Linked DNA regions of Homo sapiens: region 1 is linked to region 2. Evidence: fine-mapped expression QTL. A gene starts in region 2. The other region holds a variant in brackets. All regions are shown on one strand. Distances are from middle to middle. Region 1 holds the start of LOC105374381 (a long non-coding RNA gene). Region 2 holds the start of NRBP1 (nuclear receptor binding protein 1).

Evidence for each region. PIP is the estimated chance that this variant, and not a neighbour inherited with it, causes the effect. A credible set is the group of variants that fine-mapping cannot tell apart.
Region 1: its variant is the best candidate, but not a certain one, in a credible set for the expression of NRBP1 in monocytes after Pam3CSK4 (Quach 2016, PIP 0.69).

The regions. Positions count from the first base shown.
Region 1 is chr2:28,342,963-28,359,086 of GRCh38, forward strand. LOC105374381 (a long non-coding RNA gene) reads left to right here and starts at 5,937. Exons shown (of 3, transcript XR_939873.3): 1 at 5,937-6,060; 2 at 6,402-6,560; 3 at 7,304-11,126. LOC105374382 (a long non-coding RNA gene) reads left to right here and starts at 15,415. Exons shown (of 3, transcript XR_007086256.1): 1 at 15,415-15,698. The variant A/C (reference allele first, on the strand shown) is at 9,861.
Region 2 is chr2:27,417,644-27,433,767 of GRCh38, forward strand. It overlaps NRBP1 (nuclear receptor binding protein 1), which reads left to right and starts at 10,988. Exons shown (of 18, transcript NM_013392.4): 1 at 10,988-11,088; 2 at 15,611-15,840; 3 at 16,030-16,124. The coding sequence starts at 15,631. RefSeq lists a silencer at 11,356-11,505 and an enhancer at 12,875-13,174.

The DNA of each region.
Region 1 (16,124 bases), 930 kb after region 2:
CAGCCTGTCCCACAGTTCCTAATGTGAATGTTAAGAACATCATCTAATGGTAATAGGACATCTCATTCTATTAATGGCATCATAGCTAATTCATTGGTGCTCGAAAAAATTAAAATACAACCTTTGCCTTTTTTTATGCATCTACGGTGCTTACGTGCAGGTCCAGTACAAACACTAACTAGAAATCGGGTGTGGGGTGCACCCATCGCCTTGTGTAATCCTCGAAACAACTAAATGAAGTAGGGGTTATTGTCTTCATTTTATAGATAAAAACATGGAACCTCAAAGGTGTTAAATAAATAACTTACCCAAGGACAGGAAGCTGGCATAATTCACTCATCACCATCCTACCTTCTCCCCCTTCCCCTCTCCTTTCTTTGCTTCCCTCCCTTCCTCTTTTTTTATTTCACAAGGAAGTGAACCAGGTCCCTCTGTTTCTTTCCACTTCTGTTATCCAGCTTCCCCAAATGAGAGCTTTATTGAGCATCTAATGTATACAGAGCCCTGATAAGACATTTACACACTGCTTTTTGCCATTTTCCCTGTGAGGAGAGGGGCTTGGAGTAGCTGGGTCTGGCCAGATCACACGAAGTGGGTGTCAAACCCTGGTCAGCTGGGTCCAAGGAATTCTGTGGGGTCACATGCAACAAACTAAAAAAGACTTGGAAGTGGTCTTCGTATATGTGGATGAGTATATCTATATGGCTACACACATATATATAAATAACTTATTTTCAGATGGCTGAGCCAGAGCCAGCCCACAGCTGGAAAAAATTAAAAAATAAAAAATAAATAAACCTGACTTCAGAATTTGTGCCATAGTCTCTGGTTAAAGTCCAAAACACACTTGGTTGAAATAACAGCCTAATATTTGAGGAAAACAAGGTGAAACAGTTGTTACAATTATTAAGGAAAATTACCGAGGTATTACCAAAGACAGCAGGGTCCGTGAACTAATTCCAGGTTGAATAGGAAGCAGTTAACTCTAAGAGGCCTAAAGAAGTGTCTTCCTTCTACAGCGTTCTTGGATTTACTCTGTCACTATTCTCTGATCCCTTTGGAGGAACCACACTTCCCAAGTCTAAGAGGTCGTGCTTGGGGTCATAATAAATCATGGGTCATCATGGCCAGAAAAGTAGCCCCACAAGCAACCCAGGGATGGCCAGAATGAGCCTCCCTGCCCCGGGCCAGCCGCCTCTGCAACACGTTGGGATGAGCCAGCCAAATGGCTTGTGGAGGGTGTGGCATACACTCATCTTCCCCCAAAACAGCCCACCACCCCCTTCTTAAAGTCCCATGGAGCAGGTCCCTCCACAGAAGGCTCCTCGTTCCAGAGAGCCTCTTTGAAACGTGCCCTTTGAGTGAGCCTAGGAGCCAGGCAAGAAAGTGAAAATCAGTCCCTTTCAACTCCATGATCTCGCTTTTGCTCCAAAACGGAACGCTGCAGCTCCCGGTGACTTTTGGCTGTCTGCGCAGGTGCCAGTAGAGCAGTACGTAGAAGGGTGCTGGGTGCCATCTGGAAATAAGGTGGTGGGTGGGTGTTAAAGGTGACAGCTGCCCTCTCCCTTCTCAAGCACCATGCGTGACAGTCCAGGCCCTGTTCCAGGTGGTTCCCACACGGCGCCTTCTCGATCCTCTGACCCTTCAGAGAACTAGGAGAGCCCACCCCTGCAGGCAGCCGAAGCAATGTATCAGGGCAAATCCTGGGGAGGCCAAAAATCATTTGAGTAAGGCGAGGTCTGCCGAATAAGAGGGCCGCTTACCCAGGGTCAGCTCTGAAAGTGTCAATGAGGGACGTAAGTTCAAGTAGGTGTAGGGAAGGATTCGACTGGGACTCATTTCACAGCCCAGCTGGGGACTGATGTCACGCCCGAGGACAGGAGGTTTGGGGCAAGGGTCAGCCTCACACTGCCAGGTTGCCCTAGGGGAGATTCCACAAGGGCGCATTCCCTCGCCACGCACATGCGCAGGCACGCACATCCGTGTGCACGCACTCACCCACAACCAGGGCTTCAGATGAGCTGATCCCCCGCTATCCCACTCCAGCACCCGCTCCTGGGACTCCAGCCCACACCAGGTGGGAGGAGGACTCCTCATCCTGACTCCACGCTGGTGGCTCTCGGCGTGCGTGGGCTGCAGGTTGTACAACCCAGACGGCTGCCTCTGCCTGTCTCTCCCGCCTTTCTACCCGCACCGACACCCAGGCGGCCCCCTGAGGCACCTCCCCTTCCTCGCCGGCTCCTGCCCAAGCTGCCCAGGCCCAGGGGCCCCCTCAGCCTCGCCCACTCCAACTGCCAGCTGTCAGCAGCCAGCGGCCACCAGGGCTAATCCCCTTCACAAAACTAACTCCAGCCTGGAGCCCCGCTTCAGCGAAACCAAGCCCTGGCAAGGCGAATGGGCTCGTTGGCTGAGTTGAGGCCCATGGGCTCTGGAACCAGCCGGCCTGAGTCAAACCTGGCTCCACCACTTCCTAGGTGCGTGAACTTGAACAAGCCAGTTGATCTCAGTTTCCTCCTCTGCAAAATGGAACTTCACCACGCGGTGCTGGCAGGAGGACTCCATGATGAGGGCACTGAGTTATAAGCATTGTAACACTTACACCAGTGCCTGGCACTCAGTGGTGCTCAGAAAAGCCTATCTTTATTATTATTGCCTTTTAGGTTTGGCACAAGTTGCTCCTGGTCCCTCTTCTCACTCCTTCCTTTCCATTCCATATCCCTGTCCTTAAGCGTTTAACTGACCGAAAACAACAAAATCTTTTTTGGCCTCTCCCATACGATAGTCCAGTCCTCTTGCTGGAGCCACTCCCACTTCGAGTGTCTCTGCCAGCTGTCCACCTCTATGAGCTCCCAGGCCCTCTGCCCAAGGCTATCCACCTGCCGCCTCCCCCTCCTCTCTTCCCACAGCTCCCCTGTAAGCCTGTGCTAAGCAGCGCGACCTGGGGGCCCTGACTCGTCACTTCTGTCAAGCTCCTAAATTCCCTTGTTTCCAGAGGTTTTGTCTATTAAGTTACTTTTTTAAATTTTTTTTTTTTTTTTTTTGAGACAGGGTCTCAGTCTGTCACCCAGGCTGGAGTGCAGTGGCACAATCTCAGTTCACAGCAGCCTCCATCTCCTGAGCTCGAATGATCCTCCCACCGCAACCTCCCAAGTAGCTGGGACTACAGGTGCGTACCACCATGCCTGGCTAATTTTTGTATTTTTATATAGACGGAGGTCTTGTCATGTTACCCAGGCTAGCCTTAAACTCCTCAGCTATGCGATTCTCACACCTCGGCCTCCCAAAGTGCTGGGATTACAGGCATGAGCCACCATCCTTGGCCAAGTTACATTTATTAAATAATAATTTATTTCCCCGCTTTTAACCAATAACTCATGTACTTGCCTTCTAAGGATTCCAGTGGGCACTAAGGACCAGTTACCCCACAGAGTGGGCATGTTTTCTAAGGATTCCAGTGGGCACTAAGGACCAGTTACCCCACGGAGTGGGCATGTTTTCTAAGGATTCCAGTGGGCACTAAGGACCAGTTACCCCACGGAGTGGGCATGTTTTCTAAGGATTCCAGTGGGCACTAAGGACCAGTTACCCCACAGAGTGGGCATGTTTTCTGTCAAATCTAGAACACAGGATTAGCCAGGGGGTTCTCCTGTCTGGAAAACATACAATAAACATTAGACTTCTTTCAAGTCTTGACTGCCAGGCACAGCCCCATTGCTGATCTGCTGCAGGCCAGCCCCTGCACTGCGGGCTGTCCGTGATCTATCTGGAGAATCAGGATAAACACAGAGTGTGACCATCCACAGCTGTCGGCTGAAAGATGAGATGCTCCCTCTCCAGTACCCGTCCGTCCCCTGGAGCAGTGCCTGCTTGCTCACATGTGAGCCGCCCTGACAGGCAGCCCAAAGCCAGAAGCAGGGTTTCCAGGGCTGGAGAGGGTATTGTCTTCTGTGGTCCAGAGGCCCTGAGGAGTGTCCCACACCCAGGGTGGGGTGGCCAGGCCTGCAGAGGCTGCAGGAAGAGGTGTTGGGTCATCCTGGAGCCAAAAGGCCTTGACCAAGATGGGCCTAGTGTGACCAGGACACAGGTGAGCAGACAAGTCTGGGCTCTGACAGGTCAGGACGGGCAAAGCATTGATGTAAAATGGAATGGAAAAGCAGCACTGGGCCAGGCAGCCATTCATCCATTCCACACACATCGGCTAAGCTCTTTCTGTGTGCCAGCAGTGGGTACTCTTCGGGGAGCAACAGAACTTGCATCCCATTTATGCACTTGACAGACATCTGTCGAGCATCCTCTCTGTTCCTGGCACTGGGACTGTATGGATAAGCCTAGCCCTGCGCCTGAAAGGCCAGGAAGCTGGGGCTAGTGCACACCCCTGCCACTGATGGGAGAGGCTGGGGTAAGCCACATAACAGAGCTGCAGATCCACACTGCTGGCGTTCAGCTGAAGCAAATCCTGGAGGGCTTCCTGGAGGAGGGGCCAGCTGGGCATGGTTTTAGACTCTTGGTTTCTTTGCTTCATTGTGGTGGTTCGGTTTCTGGCGAACTCTCCCATGGGGCTGAGGTGCACACAAGGTCTGGTTCTCATGCATGCAGTCATGTTGAGCAACTACTCTGTGCCAGGCACCATTCTATAGCAGTATAGCAGTAAATACAGCACCACAACCCCTGCCCTCATGGGGTTTCCATTCCCATCAGGGGAGAGGGGGTATGAACAAGATATACAGAGGGAATGTTAGGAGCCAAGCACAGGGAAGAGAAAGCAGGGAGGGGTGGGAGTGCATTTTTAGCCAGAGAGGCAGGGCTGGCCTGGCTGAGGAGGTGACGTCTGAGCCAAGGCCTGGAAGAGGCAAGTGAAAGCGGTAGTCCCCAGCTCTCCTCCCGAAGCCTGCCCCAGGCCCCAGCCCCGGGGCGTTGCCTTGGGTCCCTCCAGAACCTGCCCAGCGGAGCTTGTCCCTGCATCCAGAACGTCTGAGGTGACAGGCAAGGAGCAGTGGGGGTTAAGGAGATCGCGGTGAGCTGAGTCCTGGCTGGCCGTCCCTGACCACACTGACGGTGGCTTCCCTGACCTAGACCTCCTCATCTGTAAAATACCAAGCCTGTTTCACAGGCTGGTGCTAAGAACAAGGCAGATACGGTGAGGGGAGGCTTTGGGGACAGTAAAAGGTCATGGCCACGTGAAAACGTAAGCAGGTTGCCACTGCCACCACCTAACACACTGCCCCCGCTGCTGCCAGGTCAGGTTAGGGGCCTGGTGGAGGTGCCCTGAGGAGGTGGTGACAATACCACGAACTGCAAAGGAAACGGGAGTGACGCCCATCCTGCCTGCCCTCCCCGGCCTCAGCCAGCCTCTGGGACCTGCCCTGGCACCCACCCACTAGACAGAGGGGAGAGTGGGGAGGAGGTGCCCCGTGCCAGGCTGCCTTCCCCTTTCACTCAGCCCCAGAGAATCCAGCTGCCTGAAGCAGGCGAACAGGGCCCCCGGAGTGCCTGAGAAGGGCCAGCCATGTTCTGCCCAAAAGCTCTGCCACCCGGGGCCTGGGTCAACAGAGGTGGGTGTGACCTGGAAGGTGGGCTCCCAGGCAGGTATCACAGCGGGCAGCAGGCTTCCAACCCGCCCATGCCACTGCCAGCAAAACGGCTAGCACGAGAGACTTTTCCTCTGTTTTTTTTTTGTTTTTTGTTTGTTTGTTTGTCTGTTTTGAGATGGAGTCTTTCTCTGTTGCCCAGGCTAAAGAGCAGTGGTGCAATCTCGGCTCACTGCAACCTCCGCCTCCCGGATTCAAGTGATTCTCTCACCTCAGCCTCCAGAGTAGCTGGGATTATAGGCACCCACCACCACACTCGGCTAATTTTTTGTATTTTTAGTAGAGATGGGGTTTCACCATGTTGGCCAGGCTGGTCTAGAACTCCTGACCTCAGGTGATCCACCCATCTCGGCCTCCCAAAGTGCTGGGATTACAGGCGTGAGCCACCGCACCTGAACTTTTCCTCTTATGAAAGGAGCAGACACCAGAAACGACGCAGGCTCCCTCCTCCAGACAGAACCACGCTCAGCGTGTAGGTATTTAACAGCGTTCAACAAATATTTTGTACTTATTTATTCTGAGGCAGGAAATGATATCCCAGCTGAGGTCTGAGGACTAAAGGGGTTTCCTTCCAGTCTTTTTCCTATTCATTGTTAACATGCTTAAAAACAATGGAAAACAATTGCGGATCTTGTTTCGTTTTTCTATTTTGTTTCCCGAGTGTTTACCATCTTGCCATCTTTGGTGAACCCATCTCATATTTCTCCATAGTTCACTTACCCCTTTCCGTTATTTTTTAGCCATTTGAATTATTTCTTGATTTTTCCCTATTATATATCTATCCCATAAATAATCACTTGTACCTTTCTGTAGGAAACGCACCTGGGTCAGAGTCACCTAAGATTGGTCAGCAAACAACAGGGAGAAACGAACGTGGTGATGGCGTCAGTTCATGCCTCAAAGACTGCAGAGCTGGGGGAAAGAAGTGAATGTGCTGGAATATTCTGGCAGCTCAGTGGAGGAAGGGCCGAGGTGGGTGCCTTCCGTGAGACAGTGAGAAGCGTGTTGAGCCTCCAGGCTGCGAGGCTGCACCTAGAGTGGGAGTGAGGAGAAGAGAGGCCATGGTTGAAAGAGTTGGCTTCTGAAGGCCTTCCCAGCCGAGCTGAGGTGACCAGGTGGCTGCAGGAGGACACAGCAGAGGAGGGACAGGACAAGGCTGTCCGTGGGAGTCCCTGTGCCAGTGTCCAGCCCACCTTCCTCGCTGATGCCATGAGCTGTGGACATGGCGGAGGTGACTGTCCTCTGCCCGTACCAAGGACTGACCCCTGGGCAAGTCTTGAGGTGGACTCACCGGCCTCCAAAGTCGTGCCCACCCCCTGCATCACCTCAGCCAGCCCAGAAAGCCCCCAGAGGGAGGGGAGTGTTTTCCTGAGTAGCTCAGACCCGGGACAGGTGCCCATGTTGGGTTTCCAGGGCTGAGCAGTCCCAGGCCACCAGATAGTCCCAAGTCTGATCCCAACACCCATACTGGGCCTGAGCTTCCTCCACTTCCTCCTCCTCTTCCTCCTCCTCTTCCTCCATGAGGAGGCTCAGAGCCACCCTGGCTGCCTGATAGGCTGACGGGAGCAGGGGAGGGAGGCTTTGAGTTTGGTCTGTCTTTTCTTCCAGGGGCTCAAAGCACTTTATAAGTATTAATTTCCTTCATCCACCTCAGCTGTTGTCCTGTTTGCTCTTTATATTTCATTATGAGCTGAGGTGTTGTGTTTAATCCTCAGGCATTCAGCAAGAGGGAATTCCGCAAGCCAGACGCAGCGGAGGCGGAGGACGCAATCCCCGCCAGCTCCTGGGACCCAAGGGCCGGGTCCCTCCCGGGCTTGTGCCCAGCTTGTCCTCTCCCATCCCTGCCTCTGGCCCGGTATTTGCTCCCAGCATCCTCAGCGGCCGGCAGGGAAGGCGTCCCTGGGAGGCCACCGTGGAGTTGTAGTGGACCCAGAGGCAGTGAGGTCTGCGGAGGAGAGCACTCAACAGGTAGGTAGGCGACCTGGGCCCCACCACGCACTGCAGTGTGACCCCAAGCAGCTCACTTCACTCCGAGTCCTGGTTTTAATAAAACATAGGACAGCGGGGATGAGACTCTTATTAATATCACATCACAGCCTGTGGAAGGGCTTTATAAATGCTAAAGCTCTGTGCTAATGTTCAGGGCACTGTACCCCTCTCCATAGGATGAGGGGTGGGTGAGATAAAATGACCCCATGGGGACATCCAGCCCAGACTTGTCACTCTGACTCGGATTCTAAGATGAAACGAGCTCATTCCCTCCTCCCACACAGCCCTGGGCCTACACCCCTTGGCCCAAGTGACCAGAGTGGAGGGCTGGGGAGGGAGATGGGTCAGGAGGTATAGCTCGGGGAGCCACAGATGTCCTGACCTGAAGGAGCTCCTTTCAGAGCTATGTGATGGGCCAGCTACGTTACCCGTGACCGCTCAGACGCAGGTGGGCCTTCAGAGTGTCCACACCGGTGAGGGTGATGTCAGCCCACCAGGGCCCGTCGGCCTGCAGGGCCGCCCTGTTAGGCTGTGTGGTTTGCCGATGTGGTACTGCCTGCCCAGAGGAAGGGATGCCTTTTGTTGCATACAAGGTTTCCATCTACAGGGCCAAGTCTTACCCAGTGGTTGCTGAGCCTGCAGGGAGGGGCTGCCCTCTTCCCAGCAGGCTTACCTGCCCCCTCTGGCAGGAGGGACCACCCCTTTTTCCTAAACACATAATTACAATAACAATACAGTCCCCAATCCCTTGTCCACAATTCCAAACTCCCAACGCTCTGAAAATCCAAAGCCTTTTTCTTTTCTTTTTTTTTTTTTGAGATGGAGTCTCGCACTGTCGCCCAGGCTGGAGTGCAGTGGCACAATCTCGAATCACTGCAACCTCTGCCTCCCGGGTTCAAGCGATTCTCCTGCCTCAGCCTCCTGAGTAGCTGGGATTACAGGTGCCCGCCACCACGCCTGGCTAATTTGGTGTATTTTTAGTAGAGACAGGGTTTCACTACGTTGGTCAGGCTGGTCTCAAACTCCTGACCTCGTGATCCGCCCGCCTCGGCCTTCCAAAGTGCTGGGATTACTGGCGTGAGCCACCGTGCCCGGCTGGCTTTTCCATACCTTATTTAGCAAAACCTAGCCTAACCTAAGTCCTTTTTTTCTCTCACTTTGAGTAAAGATTCACATTTCAATGAGGAAACCGTAATGTGTTTGAGCATGGGGTGTTTCCCCAGATCTCACTGGGTTATACATGACATTGGAATATGCATATTACCTTTTTAAAACTCCAGAAGCAGACATTCTGAAACACATACGACCATGGGTTTCCGCTAAGAAATAGATCTGTAACAACCAGCACTGAGTATACAGGCTTCCACATATCCCCAGCACTGTGCTGTGTACTCACAGGCACCAGTTCATGTAATCCCAGCAACTCAACTTATTTCATGTTATAGCTGAAGCCCAGGGAGGTTAAGTAGCCTTGCCAAAGTCACACAGTTAACTCAGGGGTGGTGCCAGATTTGAACTCCGGCAGTTTGGCTCCCTGTTACTAACCCTAGGCTGTACAGATGAGGAAACTGAGGCCCAGAAAGCAGAAACTTGCTCAAGATCCTCTGATGGGTAACGGTTGGAGCTGGGCCGGAGTCCTTGAGCCCCAAGCCTTACCTGCTCCTGTCTGTTGGGGACCAGTTGGGGGTGGTGAGGCCACCAGCAGCAGCCCAGGAACTCACAGCCTCCTCAGGCTGAGTTTGTCCAGCCCATCCGGGAGGAGCTTAAAATAGAAGAAGTTCCCATGGAAAAGTTTTAAGACTTCACTGGATTGAAACCAGATGACCCTGTGCAAACAGACCCCACCAGCAGGCACAGGGTCTGGGCGTGAGCTGTGCTCCCTACGGCTGTTCCCAGCCTGCCCTGGGGAGGGAAACTGCCCTGGGGGTGCAGACAGGCCAGCAGGGAAGAGAGCCCAGGGACAGGGGACACCAGAGCGGCAGGCCTTTGCTGTTGGGAAGGGGTGGGAGACGTCTTCCCCAAGGCAGAGAAGTGTCCCCAACACTTTCACTGGCTCCATCTGTTTCCCAGCTTCTGAAGATGGACAGAGAACTTGGAGACAGCATTCACCCATTCTCCCACCCTGCCAATCGTCTCCCTGTTCCCCCACTTATTCTTGCCTTTACTTGCACGCCACAGTCATACGGCAAACACAGCACCTCCTTGACACGGAGGGCTATGTGTGAACCACTAGGGACACAAGAATGCAGCAGACACTGTCCTGCCCTTTGGAAACTCCCAGAC[A/C]CACTGAGCAGTCGTCACAGCAGGATGGTGGGGGGTAGGGGTAGGCTGGGGACACCTGAATAACCCTGGCCGGTCAGCGGGAGCTGCACAGACGAGGTTTGGAGCAGGACCCAGAAGGGAGGGAGAAGAAGGGGTGTTCTGGGCCAGCGGTCAGGCCTGGTCACGCCAGCTGGCTGGCACACAGGGTGCGCGGAGAAGGGCAAACAGAAAAAGGGGCTGGAGGGAGGTGCGGACCCCATTAGAGGGCCTCATCGCCCCATTGAGTTTCTCCTGGGAAGGCTGGGGAGGCAGGAGATTTTATGTCTTCCTGGACTCCAGGTTGGTGGAGGAAGAAGACTCTTCTCCGTGCAGCGGCCAGTGGTAGTGACCTGAGCACTCCTCTGGGGCAGGGCCTGTCCCTGTCGCCTATTCAGCCCAGCCTCTGGCACATGGCTAAGCACCATAGGAATAGATTGCTCAATCTCCCCATGCCTAGAAACCAAGTCCCTGCTGCTCCTAGAAGGATGAGACCACCAGGGAAGTGGGAACCTGAACTGGGTTTTTTTTTTTTTTTGGAGGGGGTGCGGGGGGGACAGGGTCTCACTCTGTTGCCCAGAATGGAGTGCAGTGGCATGACCTCAGCTCACCGCAACCTCGCCTCCTGGGTTCAAGTGATTCTCTTGCCTCAGCCTCCTGGGATTACAGGCTCGCACCATTATCACCCGGCTAATTTTTGTATTTTTAGTAGAGATGGGGTTTCACCATGTTAGCTAGGCTGGTCTTGAACTCCTGACCTCAAATGATCCACCCGCCTAGGCCTCCCAAAGTGCTGGGATTACAGGTGTGAGCCACCACGCCTGGCCTGAACTGGGTTTTATATGATATTAAGAAATTGTTGTACCATGGAATACTATGCAGCCATAAAAAGAATGAAATCATGTCCTTTGCAACAATATAGATAGAGCTAGAGGCCATAATCCCAAGCAACCTAATGCAAGAACAGAAAACCAAATACCACGTTCTCACTTATAAGTGGGAGCTAAATGTTAAATACACATGATCATAAAGATGGGAACAGTAGACACTGGGGATCACTGGACTGGGAAGGGAGGGAGGGGGGTGTGGGCTGAAGAATCACCTGTTGGGTACTATGCTTACGGTCTGGGCGACAGGGTCCCTGGGACCCCAAGCCTCAGTGTCATGCAATTTGCCCATGTAACAAATCTGCAGGTGTACCCTTTATAATAAAAATTGATTTTTTTTTTTTTCTGAGATGGAGTCTTGCTCTGTCACCCAGGCTGGAGTGCAGTGGCATGATCTCAGCTCACTGCAACTTCCACCTCTTGAGTTCAAGCAATTTTCCTGCCTCAGCCTCCCGAGTAGCTGGGATTACAGGCACGCGCCACCACGCCCAGCTAATTTTTGTGTATATATATATATTTAGTAGAGATGGGTTTTCACTATGTTGGCCAGGCTGGTCTCGAACTCCTGACCTCCAGTGATCCACACCCCCTCAGCCTCCCAAAGTGCTGGGATTCAGGTGTGAGCCACCGCGCATGGCCAAAAGTTGAAATTTTTTTAAAAAGAAATTGTTAACTTTATTAACATTTGCTAAGACTTGGCATTATAGTTATGTTAAAAAAAAAAACGAATCCCTCATTCTGTTGGACATAAAAACTAAAGTATTTATGGATAAAATAATATAGTGTCTGGCACTGTTATAAAATACCAAAATTTTTTTAAGTTAGCTAAGAAGTAAAGAAGGGCCAGTTGTGGTGGCTTACACCTGTAATCCCAGCATTTTGGGAGGCCGAGGCAGGAGGATTACTTGGGTTCAGGAATTCAAGACCAGCCAGGGCAACATATGGAGACCTCATCTCTACAAAAAATAAAAAAATTAGCCAAGCGTGGAGGCACACATCTTTAGTCCCAGTTACTCGGGAGGCTGAAGTGGGAGGATCGCTTGAGCCCAGAAGGTCAAGGTGGCAGTGAGCCATGATCATGCCACTGCACTCCAGCCTGGGCAACAGAGTGAGACTCTGTCTCAAAAAGAAAAAAGAAATAAAAAAGGTAAGATGACAATGAGCCTTGAAGCTGAGTGATGGGCTCTCAGGGCCATGATAGTCCCTTCTTCTTTTGTGTGTTTCAAGTTTTCATGGTTTTAGTTACAAGTGGAGACAGGAACACATGAGTTCCCAGAGCACCAAACTTGCAGGGTGGTTGGAGCAGAGAGGATGAGACCTCACTCGTTCCCACCTTGGAAGTCAATGGGATCAGGGATCCCTTGGAAGTTGAGGGATGAGAGCACGGGCCCAGGGGGCATCAGCCCGTGGCAAGTCGCTCAGCAGGTTGGGAGCCTCAGGCTTCCAGCTCAGGCCATGGCGCCCCAGGTTGTGCAAGACAGAACTCCCCACTGTCTAATCCTCACATCCAGTCACCGGTCCTGTTTATTCTCACCCCAAAATCTCTCTCAGATCCACCTACCTTGCCCCATTCCCTCTGCCCACACCCCCCTCCTTCAAGCTGCCATCATCTCTTGCCCTGCCCACTCCAGTAGCCCTGGCTGGAGGCCAGGCCACCCTTTTGTCCCCATCAGTTCTCCTTGCACTACCCACTCTGCATTAGTCCGTCCCAGGCCCTCATTTACAGGCGGGAACACTTAAAAATGGACACTTGGCTGGTTGCGAGCTTGGTGCTCGGGAGCTGATGAGAGGCACAGACCAGGCCCCCTTCTCGGACTCCCAGGCTGGGACATTGAAGCAGAGAGCTGTGTCTACGGATGGGTCTGCCTGGGCAACCAGCTCTCCAAGAGCAGAGCTTAAGCTGCAGTCCTGCCTGGATGCAGCAGACATGGCTGGCTGGCTGGCTTCCAGAAAGGTCAGGCTGGCTGTTGATGGCTGACCTCACCGTCCTGCCCAACTGGAGAGGTTACTGTGGCCACAGCTGCCACTGTAGATAAGGTTGCCTGGGGACTGCAGTAGCCCCATCTCTGGCTCCTGTGTCACTCAAGCTTGGCCTGTGAGTGGGCCCGGAGCAGGCCTCACCCAGCCCACTGAGGATGGCAATGGTGTCCTGGGGGCCTCGCATCTTCTAGGGTTCCAGAGCCGGGGATGGAACTGGGCTCTGGACAGCAGGATGGCAGGGAACAATGCCACCCACCCCCTCCAGAGCCTCCCAAATTAATGACCACAACAGGAGGGAGAGCAAGGAGAATTGTGAAGAACTGAGGAGGTGGTGGCTGGCCCAAGTCTGTATGATTGGAGAGGCATCCCTGTTGGTTCCTTCCATCTCCACACAGATGCTTAATGAAGAAAACGGCTTTTCGGTGCCTCCCAGCAGCCACACACAGCCTGGGCAGGCCCCACAGAGCAGCGAAGGCCCAGAGACTTGACTTTCCCAGGCCCCTCCCACCCAGAGCAGGGCCCACGAGGCAGCTTCTCAGTCACGAATCAGCCTGTGAGGCTGGCGCTGCGCCTGGGCCTCCTGCCAGGGGCGTGAGGAAGGGAGTGCTGGGTTCAGACACTGTCCCTGCCGCCTCTGGCTCAGGGCTCACTGCCTGTGGCCGTGCCTCTTCCCCACCTCCAAGTCACCTTGGGCCTGGCAGTCCAGCTCAGAGTCCTGTCCTGCCTTCACTCTGGAGCACCTAGCAGCCACTTCACTGAGGCTCAGCTCCTGAGGATGGAGGAGCAGAGGACAGGCTGCTGAGAGGAGAGGGTGGCTGGGGACTGGGGGCAGAGGGAGCTGCACAGGGCTCCGAGCAGGCAGCTGTGTCTACCTAGGAGTGACTCCTGGTGTCGATGGATGACTCGGGGATAGAGTCTGGGGTCTGGAGGCCCTGCAGCTGGCACAGCCTGTCCAGGAACAGTCTAGCTGAGCTCTGGGAGCCCAGGCCAAGGACAGAGCCGCCCTGCCTGGTTCCCTCCCAGGCTCTCCCAGAGACCACCCACGTGGGCCCTATCAGCTGGGATCATTCTCCAGCCCTCTGGCTCAACCCACAAACCCACTGGCTCCGAGCTGCCCAGGCCTCCCTCCCTGGAACGGCTAAGTCCCAACAGCTGACCCTGGCAGGCATCTGGGCCACAGGGAGAGATGGGAGAGAGTGGCTTCAAGTGGAGGAGGGTGGCACCACCCTGGATGGGCCTTTGACCCTGAGGACACAGACTTCTGAGTGGGGCCCAGGCCTGAACAGCGGGAAGGGAGGGTGGGCAGCAGACTATCACCTAGCACCAGCTTTGCTCTGGTCTGGCTTTGATCTCCCTCCCCAGGCCCTGGGCTCTGGCCCCATAGAACAGTTTGCTGCCCTCACACAGGCATCATGGCTCCTTCCCTTGAAACTGGGCTCAGGCCAGTCTGTGTCTTGGGAGTGCCCGTGCCTCCCCCTGCCAGTCTAGTTCCTGCCTGTCCTCAAGGTTCAGGCCCTTCACAGGGCCCTGGCTCCCAGCATCTCATGCTCTGCATGTGCACAGCACGTCTTTCTGGAAGGTGCATCCTTCTGCCTCAGGTCTGAGGCACAGTGCACGCTATGGACCACAGGTCCTACAGCCTGAGCATCCCAGAGTCCACTCCCAGCTCCGCCACTTCCTAGCTGGGCGATGATGGACAGGAAACTGAAGCTCAGTTGCTCATCTGTAGAATGGGAAAAATAATAGCCACTTCACAGGTTGTTTTTCTTATTGTTTTATTGGGCTTTTTTTTTTTTTTTTTTTTGAGATGGAGTCTCACTCTGTCACCCAGGCTGGAGTGCAGTGGCGCGATCTTGGCTCACTGCAACCTCCGCCTCCCAGGTTCAATCAATTCCCCTGCCTCAGCCTCCCAAGTAGCTGGGATTACAGGCACCTGCCACCATGCCCGGCTAATTTTTTGTAATTGAGTAGAGATAGAGTTTCACCATGTTGGCCAGGATGGTCTCGATCTCCTGACCTTGTGATCCAACTGACTCGGCCTCTCAAAGTGCTGGGATTACAGAGTGAGCCACCGTGCCCAGCTTTTTTTTTTTTTTTTTTTTTTTGAGACAGAGTTTTGCTCTTGGTGTGATCTCGGCTCACTGCAACCTCTGCCTTCCAGGTTCAAGTGATTCTCCTGCCTCATCTTCCAGAGTAGTTGGGATTACAGGCGCCCACCACCACACCCAGCTAATTTTTGTATTTTTAGTAGAGACAGGGTTTCACCATGTGGGCCAGGCTGGTTTCGAACTCCTGACCTCAAGTGATCCACCTGCCTTGGCCTCCCAAAGTGCTGAGATTACAGGCGTGAGCCACCGCACCCACCTCACAGGTTGTTTTTTAACAAGGATTAAAGTGGAAGAGGATTAAAATGAGACATCTGTGGGACCTGCTTAGGCTGGGGCTCAGGATGTGCAGTGATTATTCCGCACCGTGGTGATGGTGGCAGTGGTCATCGTTCCTATGGTGAGTCCTGAAAAGAGCGTTGATTTTCTGAAGACAGGAACATGTCTTCTGTCTCAGTCTTCTCTGCCCTCCCGCCCACTCCTACTCCCCCGCCCCGCCGACCCCGACCCCGCCCCAGTGCCCTGCAGAGGGAGCCTGCTGGGCATGGGTAGAGAGCCCATGAGAACCTGGTGCAGGTGGAAGGAAAGGGGACCCCACAGGGAAGGTAGAAGGGCCAGGGCTTTCCCCAGCAGTGGCCAGATCTGAACAGAGATGACTCTGTGTTGCTGTGGCCACTCCAGACCCCAGACCGCAGCCTGATATCCAAGCTCCCGAGGGAGCAGAATGCATCAGCCACCTCAGAGAGGAGGCGCAGCCCAGTCAGGGCCCCACGTTGTCACGGCTCCAGCTGTCCTCAGGAGGGAAACTGTCTTGCAAGCCTGGAGACTTCTGGTTGCTTCTCGGAGGAAAGGTAGCATCTCCCTTCCTTTCTGGGAAACAAACATTCCCGAGTACCAACTGCGTGCCAGGCCCATTGCTAGCTGCAATCTTAGGCGAGTCCCAAACCTCTCTGAGACTTGGGCCTGTCATCTGGAAACAGAGTAGTCTATAAAAGATTGACTTCAAAGGGCTGTGAGGACAGTCAAAGAGACCATAAAGCACAGAGCTTGGGCAGGGGTGGGCATTCAGGAGAGGTGGTGGCCCCTTCCCCTGTGCCTGCCCCTGGGAAACCCTGTCCCCTACCTGGCTGGCAGCACAGGAGACGTGGAGAAGGGACAACCCGGTCTGGGGACGGGGCGGTTTCTCCAGGCTGGGCTGCCACTGTCTTCCTTCCCTGTGTGGGTGGTGGCTCAGGGCCTGGTGGTCTGCCACAAAGGTCCAGAAGGTCCACCCTTTC
Region 2 (16,124 bases):
GAGCTTGAGACCAGCCTGGGCAACATGGCGAAAACCATCTCTACTAAAAATACAAAAAAATTAGCTGGGCATGGTGGCGAGCGCCTGTAATGCCAGCTACTCCGGAGGCCAAGGCAGGAGAATCTCTTGAAACTGGGAGGCAGAGGTTGCAGTTAGCCGAGATCGTGCCACTACACTCCAGCCTGTGTGACAGAGCGAGACTGTCGCAAAAAATAAAATAAAATCAATTGTGACTGGGCTTGGTGGCTTATGCTTGTAATCCCAGCACTGTGGGAGGCTGAGGTAGGAGGATTGCTTGAGCCTGGGAGGTTGAGGCTGCAGTGAGGTGTGGTTGCACCAGTGCACTCCAACCTGGGTGACAGAGCAAGACCCTGTCTCAAAATAATAATAATAATAATTGTGTCTTTAGCAGGATTGTGTCCTTCCAGTGGGGGGTGGGGGGGCAGGGAGAGATCATATTTTCTTTTCAGTAAGGATATAGAGTGAACTGTCTCTTAAAATCCTTATTTGTTCGGCCGGGTGCGGTGGCTCACGCCTGTAATCCCAGCACTTTGGGAGGCTGAGGCAGGCAGATCATGAGGTCAGGAGATCGATACCACCCTGGCTAACACAGAGAAACTCCGTCTCTACTAAAAATACAAAAATTAGCCAGGCGTGGCGGCGTGTGCCTGTAGTCCCAGCTGCTGGGGAGGCTGAGGCAGGAGAATGGCGTGAACCCGGGAGGCGGAGCTTGCAGTGAGCCGAGATTGCGCCACTGCCCTCCAGCCTGGGAGACAGAGCCAGATTCCATTTCAAAAAAAAAAAAAAAAATCCTTATTTGTTCTTAGGAGATCCATGTACGGGTTTTTTTTTTTTTTAATTTATTTATTTTTTGAGATGGAGTCTCGCTCTGTTGCCCAGGCTGGAGTGCAATGGCGCAATCTTGGCTCACTGCAACCGCTGCCTCCCAGATTCAAGTGATTCTCCTGTCTCAGCCTCCCAAGTAGCTGGGACTATAGGCGCATGCCACCACGCCCAGATAATTTTTGTATTTTTACTAGAGACGGGGTTTTACCATGTTGCCCAGGCTGGTCTCGAACTCCTGAGCTCAGGCATTCGCCTGCCTGGGCCTCCCAAAGTGTTAGGATTACAGGAGTGAGCCACTGTGCCTGGCCTCCCCATCTTTTAACTATATCTATATATCCCGAGTTTTTGTGCTGCATTCTGTGTGAATTAACTTATTCTTTTGTTAGTCATACCAAACTTAGAGTTCTTTTTATTATTTTGTTTCTCTTAATACCAAACAAATCAGGCAAGGAATTTCTTTACTTGTTTTTGGCGAGATCTTTGTCACTCTCTCTCCAAACCTGCTCCAACAATTAACAAGTATCAGTGATCTGATTATCTCTCTAGTTTTCTCATTTATTTCCTGAAGAATGTTCTCCTTTTCATCCCTGAGAGGTCTGAGAAAAAAAAAGAAAAAAAGAAGAATTTCTCTCTGGAAAGTCTCCTCTCTTCCCTCCAAGACGTAATACATTTTATTTGTTTGTTTGTTTGTTTGTTTATTTGAGACAGAGTCTCACTCTGTCGCCCAGGCTGGAGGGCAGTGGCACGATCTTGGCTCACTGCAACCTCCGCCTCCCGGGTTCAAGTGATTCTACTGCCTCAGCCTCCTGAGTAGCTGAGATTACAGGCGCGTGCCATCACGCCTGGCTAATATTTGTATTTTTAGTAGAGATGGGGTTTCTCCATGTTGGCCAGGCTGGTCTCGAACTTCTGACCTCAAGTGATTCGCCCGCCTCGGCCTCCCAAAGCGCTGGGATTACAGGCGTGAGCCACCGCGCCTAGACAATAAATTTTATTTTTTAAAAAAGATTAAATTTCAAACTGCAAAACTGGAGGTAAGGCAAAAGAAAGGAAACCCACACCCAGGTTCGAAATTTTCAACTATTATTGCTAAAAAGTGAGACATCTTCACAAAACTTGGAGTGGAAAACCATAGGTTTTATGGTCCAAGTTCCTGACTTCCAATACTGGAGAGTCTTCACTGGACTTTTCTTCACTTCCTTAACTGCTTGTTGAATTCCTATTTATCATTTAGAACGCAGCTCAGACAGATCAACTTTGTTCTTTGGGAAACCGTATGTATTAGTTTCCTATGACTGTTGTAACGCATTACCATAAACTTGGTGATATAAAGTGCCACACGTTTATTATTTTACAATTCCAGAGGACAGATATCTGAAATTAGTTTCGCTGGTATAAAGTTAAGGTGTTGGCAGCACTAGTGCCTTCTGGGGGATCTAGGGGAGAATCTGTTTCCTTGCCTTTTCTTTTTTTGAGACGGAGTCTCACTCTGTTGCCCAGACTGAGTGCAGTGGCGTGCGATCTCGGCTCACTGTAACCTCTGCCTCCCAGGTTCAAGCGATTCTCCTGCCTCAGCTGCCCAAGTAGCTGGGATTACAGGTGCCCACCCAGCTAAGTTTCGTATTTTTAGTAGAGACGGGGTTTCACCATATTGGTCAGACTGGTTTTGAACTCCTGACCTCAGGTGATCCACCCACCTCGGCCTCCCAAAGTGCTAGGACTACAGGCATGAGCCACCGCATCCGGCTCCTTGCCTTTTCTAGCTTCTAGAGGCTGCCTGTATTCGTTGCCATCACTCCACCCTGCTTCTGTGGTCATATTTCCTTTTCTGTATTCATACCCTCCCTCTGCCTTCCTCTTACATGGATACTTGTGATCACATTTAGAGCCAACCCTGATAATCCAGGGTAATCTCCTGGATTATCAAAAATTTTAATTTAAGTCCCAGTGCAGTGGCTCATGCCTGTAATTTTGTAAAAATACAAAAATTAGCCGGGCATGCTGGCGGGTGCCCGTAATCCCAGCTACTCGGGAGGCTGAGGCAGAAGAATTGCTTGAACCTGGGAGGAGGAGGTTGCAGTGAGCCAAGATCATGCCACTGCACTCCAGCCTGGGTGACAGAACAAGACTCCATCTCAACAACAACAACAAAACAACAACAACACGGCCAGGCGAGGTGGCTAACACCTGTAATCCCAGCACTTTGGGAGGCCGACAGGGGTGGATCCCTTGAGGCCAGAAGTTCGAGGCCAGCCTGGCCAACATGGCGAAACCCAGTCTCTACTGAAAATACAAAAATTAGCCGGGCATTGTGGCACGCACCTGTAGTCGAAGCTACTCAGGAGGCTGAGGCACAAGAATAGCTTGAACTGGGAGGCAGAGGTTGCAGTGAGCCGAGATTGGGCCACTGCACTTCAGCCTGGGCAACAGGGCGAGACTGTCTCAAAAACAAACAAAAAAAAGGGCAAAATAAATAATACATGAATTTGATTTGAACATAATTGAACACAATTGTGGAAATCAAATAATCTCAGCTGAATTAAGATTTAATTGGGCTATGTTTGTCTTTTTATTTCTCAGTGGCCCTATTTATGTATTTGTTTATCTTAGAAGTTGACTCAGTTCCTTATGATAGGACTTACAGGTATACAGCCAAATAATGTTCCCATTTAATAACTTTTAAAATGAAGCTCAGAGGCCTAAGGTATGAGGCAATGCCCCAAGGCATCATTCCAAGACAAGGATAAGGTGTGAGCTAGGGTTATGGTTACTATCCTTCAGCCTAATGACAGGCTATCTGTATCAGAATCACCTGGAAAAATTCTTAGCCATGCAGAAACTCAAGTCTCCCTGACCCCAAGAATCATATTCAGCTGATCCAGGGAGGGTCCTGGAGATGTGTGTTTTAAAACACCTCAGCTAATTCACAATTATCAAGAAATCTAGGCTTCTCTTATTTAGTTTGAAATCATACAGAAATGTAAATGCAATTTTTATTTGGCCTTCAGTTTGAAAAAAGGCTCTTTTGGAAGAAAGGATCCACACCACATCCCTAGAGAAATGATTAGATTGAAGGCATGGCTTGCAAGCCTCACATTGAGAAAAAAAAAAACAAAACTTAGAGCAGAAACCCAATAGGTTTTCCAATTGCCCTGATCTGTGGGAACTAAGACCTTCAAAGATTCTAGACAGTTTTATTGGAGTATGGGTGCGGCAACTCAAACCTGTAATCCTAGCACTTTTGGGAGGCTGAGGTGGAAGGATTGCCTGAGCCCAGGAGTTTGAGGCTGGAATGAGCTATGATCACACCACTGCACTTCAGCCTGGGCAACAGAGCAAGACCCTGTCTCTAAAGAAAAAAACAAACAAACCTCACTCATTGTGAATTTAATGACTTTCAGTAAATTTACAGAGTTCTGCAACTGGCATGTCACAATGCAAGTTATAGTCCACATGGGAAATTAGGTTAGCAGGTCACCAGGGAAGCTCAGACTTAGAACAAATAGAAATGAGTAGTCTCAAAAATAGACAAGTGAGATTGCATCAAACAACAACAACAATGGAAACTATCGACAGAGCGAAGAGACAGACTATGGAATGGGAGAATATATTTGCAAACTATGCATCTGATAAGGGCTAATGTTAATATCCAAAATATATAAGAAACTCAAACAACTCAATAGCAAGAAAAACAGGCTGGGCACGGTGGCTCATGCCTGTAATCCCAGCACTTTGAGAGACCAAGGTGGGTGGATCACCTGAGGTCAGGAGTTCCAGACCAGCCTGGCCAACATGGTGAAACTCTGTCTGTACTAAAAATACAAAAAATATGGCTGGGCGCAGTGGCTCAGGCCTGTAATCACAGCACTTTGGGAGGCTGAGGTGGGAGGATCACCTGAGGTTGGGAGTTTGAGACCAGCCTGACCAACATGGAGAAACCCTGTCTCTACTAAAAATACAAAAATTAGCCTGGTGTGACCGGGCGCAGTGGCTCACGCCTGTAATCCCAGCACTTTGGGAGGCCAAGGTGGGCGGGTCACCTGAGGTCAGGAGTTTCAGATCAGCCTGACCAACAAGGTGAAAACCTGTCTCTACAAAAAATACAAAATTACCCAGGCGTGGTGGCAGGTGCCTGTAATCCCAGCCACTTGGGAGGCTGAGGCAGCAGAACTGCTTGAACCCGGTAGGCGGAGGTTGCAGTGCAGTGAGCCAAGACTGCACCATTGCACTCTGGCCTGGGCAACAGGGGTGAAACTCTGTCTCAAAAAAAAAAAAAAAAAAAAAAAAAAAAAGGCCGGGGGGCAAAGTACCTGAATAGACATTTCTCAAAAGAAGATATACAAATGGCTAACGGGTATATGAAAAAAGTACTCTAATAATCAGGGAAATGCAAATCAAAATCACAGTAAGATATCACCTCACACCTGTTAGAATGGCTGTTATAAAAAAAGACAAAATATAACAAGTATTGGTGAGGATGTGGGGAAAAGAGAAAAGAGAACCCTTCTCGTACACTATTGGTGGGAATGTAAATTGGTACTACCATTAGGGACAACAGTATGGAGAATCCTCAAAAATAAATAAATAAAAAATTTAAAAGGCTAAGAACATCTTAAATTTGAATAGATATTGCCAAGTTGCTTTTCAAAAATATACCACCCAGAGTATGTTAGGGTTCCTCTTCCCCTGCATCCTTACCAACACTGAGTAATACCAATATTTGTTTATTTATTTATTTATTTATTTATTTATTTATTTTGAGACAGACTCTTGCTCTGTCACCCAGGCTGGAGGGCAATGGTGCGATCTCAGCTCACTGCAACCTCCGCCTCCCAGGTTCACTGGGTTTAAGTGATTCTCCTGCCTCAGCCTCCCGAGTAGCTGGTACTACAGGCGTGTGCCACCACACCCAGGTAATTTTTGTATTTTTAGTAGAGACAGGGTTTCACTGTGTTAGCCAGGATGGTCTCAATCTCCTGACCTCGTGATCTGCCTGCCTCGGCCTCCCAAAGTGCTGGGATTACAGTCATGAGTCACCATGCCTGGCCCAAGTAACATCAATCTTTTTAATTTTGATGATACATTAATTAAAAAAAGATATCCTGTTTTAATTTGCACTTATTTAATTATAGGTGAAGCTAAACATCTTTTCCTATGTTTATTGCCCAGTTGTATTTCCTCTTCAATTTCTTGCCTATTCAAGTTTTTTTGTTTATTTCTTTACTGAGTTGATCATTTTTTTTCTTTCTGGCTTGTAAGGGCTCTTTGTACATCAGAAAAATTCTATTGTCTTCCCAATCTCCTACAATGTTAATTTCATCCTCTCGCTACTGGAATTTTACTCTCAATTTATTATAAGTTTCTACTGCAAAGCTCTTTTTTATTCTTAATTCTCCATGATCACTTCAGCATTCGGGATTACTGAACAGCTCTTTCTTAAAATTTTCTACTCACTTCCTTTTCATAATACTGATTTATTTCATTTCTCTCTGTTTCTTAAATTAAGAAAAATTATCTTAATTTTTCTCCTCTATCTTTACTTTCTATTCCTCTTCCTATTAACGTACCCAAAGTTATATCCATTGTTCTCTCTATACCAGAGTTTCTTGCTCTGTTACAGAGGCTGGAGTGTAGTGGCACAATCACGGCTCACCACAACCTTGACCTCCTAGGCTAAAGCGATCCTCCTGCCTCAACCTACTAAGTAGCTGGAACTATAGGGGCATGCCACCATGCCTGGCTAATTACAAAAAAAAATTCTTTTTTTTTTTTTTTTGAGACGGTCTCACTCTGTCACCCAGGCTGGAGTGCAGTGGCGCAATCTCAGCTCACCGCAACCTCCACCTCCAGGGTTGACGCCATTCTCCTGCCTCAGCCTCCTGAGTAGCTGGGACTACAGGTGCCCGCCACCACGCCCAGCTAATTTTTTTGGTTTTAGTAGAGACAGGTTTTCACTGTATTAGCCAGGATGGTCTCGATCTCCTGATCTCGTGATCTTTCCGCCTCGGCCTCCCAAAGTGCTGGGATTACAGGTGTGAGCCACCGCACCCGGCCAAAAAAATTCTTTTATAGAGACAGGGTCGCACTATGTTGCCCGGGCTGGTCTCAAACTCCTGGGTTCAAGTGATCATTCCACCTTGGCCTCCCAAAGTACTGGGATTACAGGCATGAACCACCGTGGCCAGGTGCCTTTTTTTAAAAATTTTTTTGAGACAGTCTCGCTCTGTCACCCAGGCTGGAGTGCAGTGGCCCAATCTCGGCTCACTGCAAGCTCCACCTCCTGGGTTCACGCCATTCTCCTGCCTCAGCCTCCCGAGTAGCTGGGATTACAGGCGTGTGCCACCATGCCCCATCTCTACTAAAAATACAGCCAGGGATGGTGGCACATGCTTGTAATCCCAGCTACTCAGGAGGCTGAGGTAGTAGAGTCGCCTGAACCTGGGAGGCAGAGGTTGCAATGAGCCAAGATTGTGCCACTGAACTCTAGCCTGGGTAACAGAGTGAGACTCCATCTCACAAAAAAAAAAAAAAAAAAAAAAAAAAAAAAAGATATATGTAGCTAAATGCTCATTGCTGCTTTATTTATAATAATAAATGATGAATGTTATCCCAATGTCCACAGGTAGTTACTAATTAAATGCTGGCATATTTGGACAGTGGAATATTCTGCTGGTTAAAAATTAACCAGTAAAGGGTCGGGCACGGTGGTTCACACCTGTAATCCTAGCACTTTGGTAGGCCAAGGCGGGCGGATTGCCCGAGTTCAGAAGTTCAAGACCAGCCTCGGCAACATGGTAAAACTCTCTCTCTACTAAAAATATAAAAATTAGTCGGGCATGGTGGCACATGCCTGTAGTCCCAGCTACTTGGGAGGCTGAGGCACGAGAATCGCTTGAACCTGGGAGGTGGAGGTGGCAGTTAGCCGAGACTGAGTCACCACACTCCAGCCTGGGTGACGGAGTGAGATTCCTGTCTTAAAAAAAAAAAAGGCTGGGTGCAGTGGCTCACACCTGTAATCCCAGCACTTTGGGAGGCCGAGGCAGGCGGATCACGAGGTCAGGAGTTCAAGACCAGCCTGGCCGACATGGTGAAACCCCATCTCTACTAAAAATACAAAAATTAGCTGGGCATGGTGGTGCGTGCCTGTAATCCCAGCTACTAGGGAGGCTGAGGCAGGAGAATCGCTTGAACCCAGGAGGCGGAGGTTGCAGTGAGCCACGACTGCGCCACTGCACTCCAGCCTGGCGACAGAGCAAGACTCCATCTCAAAAACAAAACAAAACAAAACAAAAAGACAACAACAAAAAAAAACCCAAGTAAAGTAAAAAATTAAAGTAGTGGTTAAAAAATTAAAGTAGGGCCATGTGCATTGCCATAGAAAAAAGTGAAAAAGGTTATGTAGTATAAACTTGTTTTCATTTAAAATTATATACACATATGTGAATATATACTTAGAAAAATAAAAATAAAAGGTCAGGCGCGGTGGCTCATGTCTGTAATCCCAGCACTTTGGGAGGCCAAGGTGGGCAGATCACGAGGTCAGAAGATCGAGACCATCCTGGCTAACACGGTGAAACCTCGTCTCTACTAAATATACAAAAAATTAGCCAGGCATGGTGGCACACGCCTGTAGTCCCAGCTATTCGGGAGGCTGAGGCCAGGAGAATCTCTTGAACTTGGGAGGTGGAGGTTGCAGTGAGCCAAGATCGTGCCACTGCACTCCAGCCTGGGCAATGGAGCGAGACTCCACCTCAAAAAAAAAAAAATACACCAAAGTCTTAATTATCGGGGGAAGTAGGATTATAAGAGATTTCACTTTCTACAGAAATTGTTAATATTCATATTACTGTTGTCAGCATTGTTGTCATAAAGCAATTAAAAGTGCCTAACACATAGAAGCTACTATATAAATATTACATTATACTAAAATAGTTTTGGGAATATTTTTGCGTTGTTTTTTGGCAATGAGCATGAATTATTTTTATAAGCAGGAAAAAATAAATACATGAGGTGGTGAAAATGCAGGTAGTATTTGATCATTTTAAATGTAATGAAGGGTTAAAAATGAGAGCTAGAGGATGCCAAAGGGTCCTCCATGCATACTTGAAAGGACCTAGTTGAAAGCGGAAGGTTGATAATGATAAAGCCCCAGGCAGAAGAGAATGGGAAACTCTAATGATAACATGAACTGATATTTAATGAATGTTTACCCTGGGCCAGGTGTTCCAATTGCTTTTGAGCCCACAGGAAGGAAAGGTTAATCTTTTCCTTTGAGATTAGAACCAAGAAATTATTTTATTTATTTATTTATTTATTTTTTAGGTGGAGTCTTGCTCTTGTCGCCCAGGCTGGAGTACAGTGGCCTGATCTCAGCTAACAGCAACCTCTGCCTCCCGGGTTCAAGTGATTCTCCTGCCTCAGCCTCCTGAGTAGCTGGGATTACAGGCGCCCACAAGCACGCCTGACTAATTTTTGTATTTTTAGTAGAGACGAGGTTTCACCATGCTGGCCAGGCTGGTTTTGAACTCCTGACCTCAAATGATCCGCCCGCCTCAGTCTCCCAAAGTGCTGGTATTACAGGCATGAGCCATCGCGCCCAGCCCAGAGCAAAGATTCTTAACCTCAGTTTCCTGAAATTATATCCTAAATTTGTTGGGTAAGTGCATTTTTTAAAGTACAAGAGAAGGCCCATAAGTTACATCAGATTTTAAAAAGGGTGTTTGAGCCCCCCTCTTCCAAAGATAGAAGAATCAAGGAAGAAAGGGTAAAACATACATACATATATATATATATATATATATATATATATATATATATATATATTTTTTTTTTTTTTTTTTTTTTTTTTTTTTTGAGACGGATTCTCACACTCTGTTGCCCAGGCTGGAGCGTAGTCGTGCAGTCTTGGCCTACTGCAACCTCTGCCTCCTGGGCTCAAGTGATCTTCCCGCCTCAGCCTCCCAAGCAGCTTGAGAGAACAGACATGTGCTACCTCGCCCGGCTAATTTTTGTATTTTTAGTAGAGACGGAGTTTTACTACATTGAGCAGGCTGGTCTCGAACTCCTGACCTCAAGTGATCCGCCCACCTCGGCCTCCCAAAGTGCTGGGCGTGAGCCACCGCGCCCGGCCGAAAGATTGGTTTTAAAAACGAGTATTTTGAGATGATGAGAAAACGAGAGGGTTTCTGCCAGTTGTCCTTTCTCCCAGTGAAACAGGATTAGAGATTCTCTTTAATGACAGTAAAATTTGGTGATTGTGACATTTCCAAGTTCTGTTGATTGATTCATCATCTTCCCTCCATCATACACGTCTAAGGGCAGAGTGAACTTCCATCCTGAAGGCTCCGCGCTTAGTTTTCGCAGATTAATAGCTCACCAAGAATTTATCATCTTTTCTTTCCACTAACTCGAAACCAATCTAAATTCTTTCCAAACATCTTCTCAACGTAGTCTCCTTTGATGAAATTTACTGTTTCGGATTCTAGACTTGGCTCTTACCAACTTAACTTTCGGTTAATAGCTTAATACCTCTGATTCAGGTTTTTGCATTTGTCAACTACCATTGAATGATAATTTCAATGAGTTCGTTCTTATGAGGATCAAATGAAATAACATCTGTGAAAACCTCTTACAAAGTTTAAGCAAATAGTGCTAAGCAATCACCAAGCGTTAACTACTAATTTTCAGTGTTAGGTAAATTTTAAAAGCTTTCCGGAGAATTGGCGTCCTGCACACCAGTCTCGTTCCAAAATAATGCAGGCGGGGGCTGGGGTGGGGGCGCTCCTCTCGGACTGAGGCTATGTCTTTCGCTCCTTTTGTCTTTTCCAGGCATTAGAACTGTCATGGCGCCTTCAAGAAGAGGTAGGAGGCCCTCTCTGCGTCCAGCAGAACCATCTGGGGCACCTGGACCGGGCGGTGGGGTGGACAGAGAGACGAGCCCCAGCTGGGACCGAAAACATCGACCCCTCCGAGAGGTCTCGGCCGGACCGGCGCAAGGGGAGGAGAGCGGGTGGAAGCCCACCCCAGCGAACGCCCGAGGGCCGGGCCCCGCCCACCCAGAACGTCACCCAATGGAAACCTGCCGGCGGTGCGGCACCGCCCATCGTTGGTCCGGGCGCCGCGAGGGCGGGGCCCGCAGTTCGGTTGCGCTGCGGAGCGCAGCTGTGAGGGAGTCGCTGTGATCCGGGGCCCCGGAACCCGAGCTGGAGCTGAAGCGCAGGCTGCGGGGCGCGGAGTCGGGAGGTGAGCGCCCAGGGAAAAGAGGGCCCGGGAGGGAGGGGTTCGCGAGAGGACGGAAGGATCGGCCTCCGAGGCCCGGGACGGTGGGACCCGCCAGTCGGGTGCTGAAGGCGGCCCTGCTCACTCAGTAGCCCAGGCCCGATCGGGCCCTGCCTGCTGGAGCCGAGGGGCCGCTTCGGCCCCGCAGTCGCTGCTTAGCCCTCCCTGGCGTCTCTGGCTTGGCGGCGGCGCCCCGGGATTCTGCGGGCGCGGGTCGGGAGGCCCTGGCGTTCGCTTGGAACTCCGGCTGCGAGAGGCGGGGCCCGGCGGGTGGGGGCGGGGGCGGGGGCGGCGGTCGCGGCCCGGCGGCCTGCGGAAGCTCGGCGGCCTGGCCTGGCCTGCTCGCGGGGAGGTGCGCAGACTGCGCGGGGGCGTGGCCTGCGCCCCTGACTGCGCTGTCGGTCCGGCCTTTGATGAGGTGGCCGCCGCTGGCTCCCTGGGCCCCAGCCTGGTTCCCGCGCGGGCCGCGGCTGCCTTCCAGACGCAGGGCATGCGACCTGTTGGAGTGTGAAATTCTAGGGGCCGGGTTCCTCCCCAGAGCGGTTTTATTTCCGACTGGACTGTGCTGCGGGTCTCAGAGGCCCTCTGGTCCGTTCAGGGTGAGGACAGCTGAGAGGCCTGGGCCCGTGAGCTCTTGCAGAGGAGTTGACACGCAGAGGGGCTGCTGTCCAATAAACGAAAGTGTCGGGGAAAAACTTTGCAGGGCGATCTGCATTACTCCAAAGTGAACACACTGCATGTCTCAGGGTGGCTGGAGGCGGCGAGAATCCCCTTATGGGAGTATATGAGCTTTTCCATGTGTTATCTCTTTAAAACCTCTCAGCGGCTCCGAGACAAAACTCCCAGTGTCGCAGAGGTTTCTTCATCAATAGGAGTAGTGCTGGAGAATCTTGGGCACTGCCCTCATTTTGCCTGCGAAGGAAAAATTAGGAAGGGATAAAAAGTCACAAAAATTAGGAAGGTGGGGGGGATAAGCAAATTCCAAGGGCATCTATCTCTGATGAAGGGTTGGTGTCTCCTGTGGTGCCCTACTGTGGATTAGTTATTTGTGTCCTCGGTCCAGAAGTTTCTCTGGAGCCCATTGGCTACAGCTTTCCTGTATTAGAATTCTACTGTTATTTCCTACTGTAGTCTGGCTGGGAATTTTATTTAGTTGTTCAGATTTTAGATGCATTCAGTGAATGCAGCTGCTCAAGGAAGTAACTAATAGTGTCTTACCATTTTCTTAGCTACTTTTCAGAAGAAGGAACATGATCTCTAACAGAAGTTTTCTGGTAGATTACTAAAACAGGCAGATAGTAGCTTTCCTGGCTGGCTGAGTTAAATCCCTCTCCAGCGATCCTCCCACTTCAGCCTCCTAAGTAGCTGGGATTACAGGCATGAGCCAGCGCGCCTGGCAAATCTCTCTAGAATAAGTCAGGATCTAGAAAATAACATAGGGAAAGAATATCTTGCCAGATTTCCTCTGTACTGCCTATTGCTCTTTGGTATTTACTAGACTGTCTTCTAATAAAAATCTCCTGAGTTGAGTTAAACGTAGTGTAGATTGGGGGCAGAGATGGGCACAAATGGGCATCAGAGAGTTCTAAAAATAAATGTGGGCTTTTCAAAAGATTGGTGTGTTGACTGGAGACTTCTGAACTTAGAGGAGCACATTTAGTTTCCAGGGTATCAGTTTCTTTTTCTTTTCTTTCTTTTTTTCTTTTTTTTTTTTTTTTTGAGTCATAGTCTCACTCTGTCACCCAGGCTGGAGTGCAGTGGCGCCATCTGGGCTCACTGCAACCTCCGCCTCCTGAGTTCAAGTGATTCTCGTGCTTCAGCCTCTTGAATAAGCTGGAATTATAGACGTGCGCCACCACACCCTGCTAATTTTTGTATATTTTTGTATTTTTTTGTTGCCCAGGCTGGTCTCGAACTCTTGAGCTCAAGCAATCTGCCTGCCACCATCTCCCAAAGTGCTGGGATTACAGGCGTGGGCCAGCTTGCCTGGCCCAGGGTATCTCTTTCATACTGTAGAGAACTCTCTTGAGCTGAGCACACACAGGTTCCAACTCCTTCACAGTCTTTATTCTTAGAGATATGAAATAACATTAAGTGGTTGTCTTGTGACTTTTTGTACAAGTTAATGGCATTTAGCTCTCAATAATTCTTTTTCTTCAAGTACCCATGACCCTGAAAATGTTATGCTGTATAATACTTTTTCCTATAAAAGTTGTACCTTGAGTTATTTATACTTGTAAGAAATAACCTAGGCTGGGTGTGGTGGCTCACGCCTGTAATCCCAGCACTTTGGGAGGCTGAGGCGGGCGGATCATGAAGTCAGGAGATTGAAACCATCCTGGCTAACACGGTGAAACCCCATCTCTACTAAAAATACAAAAAATTAGCTGGGTGTGGTGGCACGTGCCCGTAGTCCCAGCTACTCGGGAGGCTGAGGCAGGAGAATCGCTTGAACCTGGGAGGCGGAGGTTGCAGTGAGCCGAGATTGCACCACGGCACTCCAGCCTGGGTGACAGAGTGAGACTCCATCCCCTCTGCCAAAAAATAAATAACCTATATCAGATCTAGTCCCCCAGAGAATGGAAACTTCAGAGCCTTTGAGCAATGTGAATGAAATGAAAGCTGGAAGCTTAAAGTCTTAGCTCTGGCTTGAATTTGTGGCTGCTTGAATGTGGGCATTTATTTTGTTTGTTATTGTATCTCAAGGACTTAGCCCAGTGCTTGGCCCACAATAAATGCTTAATAAAACATCTGTTAAATGAGTGAATGAAAAAAAAAATGTTGTTAACCAATACCCATTTGTCACACTCACATCACAGGAAAGGTGAGGTCATCAGGGATGAAGTCACTAACAACTGCCAGTCATGTGCCCCAAGGGTAGCCTCACCATGGACTAGTGGGCTTGTTCTGTGTAGAGAAGGGATGGATAGTGAATGCCAAGGTTAGTTCTAGCTGGATAAATTAGCCAAGGGTTTCAGCTGGATAAGTTGGCTGAGGGTGCTACAGGTCTAGCCTTAAGGCTGTCTCACTGAAACATTTTGGAGTCTGGAGTCATCTGTTCTGAATAGCGCCCACATAGTTTATATTTTTTTATTTTTTGAGACAGAGTCTCACTCTGTTGCCCAAGCTGGAGTGCAGTGGCACGATCTCAGCTCACTGCAACCTCTGCCTCCCGGGTTCAAGTGATTCTCCTGCCTCAGCCTCCTGAGTAGCTGGGACTACAGGTGCGTGCCACCACACCCAGCTAATTTTTTTATTTTTAGTAGAGACAGGGTTTTGCCATGTTGGTCAGGCTGGTCTCGAACTCCTGACCTCAGGTAATCCACCTACCTCGGCCTCCCAAAGTGTTGGGATTAAAGGCGTGAGCCACTGTGCCCGTCCACACATAGCTTAATTCTTGAGCACAGTAAAAATAGGGTGTACTTGGGGATTCAAAGGGAAGCCTATTGGATGAGTATTTGCCAAGAAGGAATGGAGCACCTGATTTTGCTGGTGATTTGAACCTTACTCTAAGTGGGATTAGACTGCCATAAATCTTGTGTTTGTCATTCCTGGGAGGGTCATCTTCAACTAAGATAGCTCCCCTTTTCTAGACTAGAGTTAGGAGAATAGTTAATGTTTCAGTATTTAGGACTGATTCTGATTTTGGATTTAAAGGAAACAAAGGTGGTGTGTGTTTTCTATTTTTAATTTTTAAAAGTTTTGTGTAGAGACTGGGGTCTTTTTATGTTGTCCAGGCTGGTCTCAAATGCCTGGCCTGTTTTATTTTCTTTTGAATTTGCAGATAAGTATTAGGATTATTAAATCTTTTTTTTTGTTTGTTTGTTTTTTGTTGAGACAGGGTCTCCCTCTGTTGCCTAGCCAATGGCATGATCATAGCTCACTGCAGCCTCAAACTCCTGGGCAATCAAGTGATTCTCCCATCAGCCTCTCGGGTAGCTGGGACTATAGCTGTGTACCACCTTGCCCTGCTAATTTTTAAATTTTTTTGTAAAGATGGGGTCTCACTTTGTTGCCCAGGCTGGTCTCAAACACCTGGCCTCAAATGAACCTCTTGCCTCGGCTTCTCAAAGTGCTGGGATTACAGAGGTGAGCCACTGTGCTCAGCTGGATTACTAAATTTTTTTTTGAGATGGGGTCTTGCTCTGTCACCCAGGCTGGAGTGCAGTGGCGTGATCTCAGCTCACTGCAACCTCCACCTCCCTGGTTCAAAAAAATTCTCCTGCCTTAGTCTCCTGAGTAGCTAGGACTACAGGCACGCGTCACCACACCCAGCTAATTTTGTATTTTTAGTAGAGATGGGGTTTCACCATGTTGATCAGGCTGGTCTTGAACTCCTGACCTCAGGTGATCTGCCCACCTCAGCCTCCCAAAGTGCTGGGATTACAGGCATGAGCCACCACGTCCAGCCTGGATTACTAAATCTTTACAGATGTATCCTGACTTTCTCTGCCTTTTCCCTCTGTATTTGCCCCAACCAGTGCAGGCCTGAGTGTTCCTTCCAGCATGTCGGAGGGGGAGTCCCAGACAGTACTTAGCAGTGGCTCAGACCCAAAGGTAGAATCCTCATCTTCAGCTCCTGGCCTGACATCAGTGTCACCTCCTGTGACCTCCACAACCTCAGCTGCTTCCCCAGAGGAAGAAGAAGAAAGTGAAGATGAGTCTGAGATTTTGGAAGAGTCGCCCTGTGGGCGCTGGCAGAAGAGGCGAGAAGAGGTAAGGTTATGGTACAGTTACTCTTGGGTGAGTGAATTCTGGAAAGGTGAGAACTGGAAGAGCAAAGTCTTAAAAGAGGCCAACCAAACTTCAATAGGTTGGGGGCTAGGAGGAGATGATCATATGGAGTGTTAAAATGGAGGATTTGTGAGATAAGTTTAATTCTCTTTCATATGAATTTCTTCTCAGGTGAATCAACGGAATGTACCAGGTATTGACAGTGCATACCTGGCCATGGATACAGAGGAAGGTGTAGAGGTTGTGTGGAATGAGGTACAGTTCTC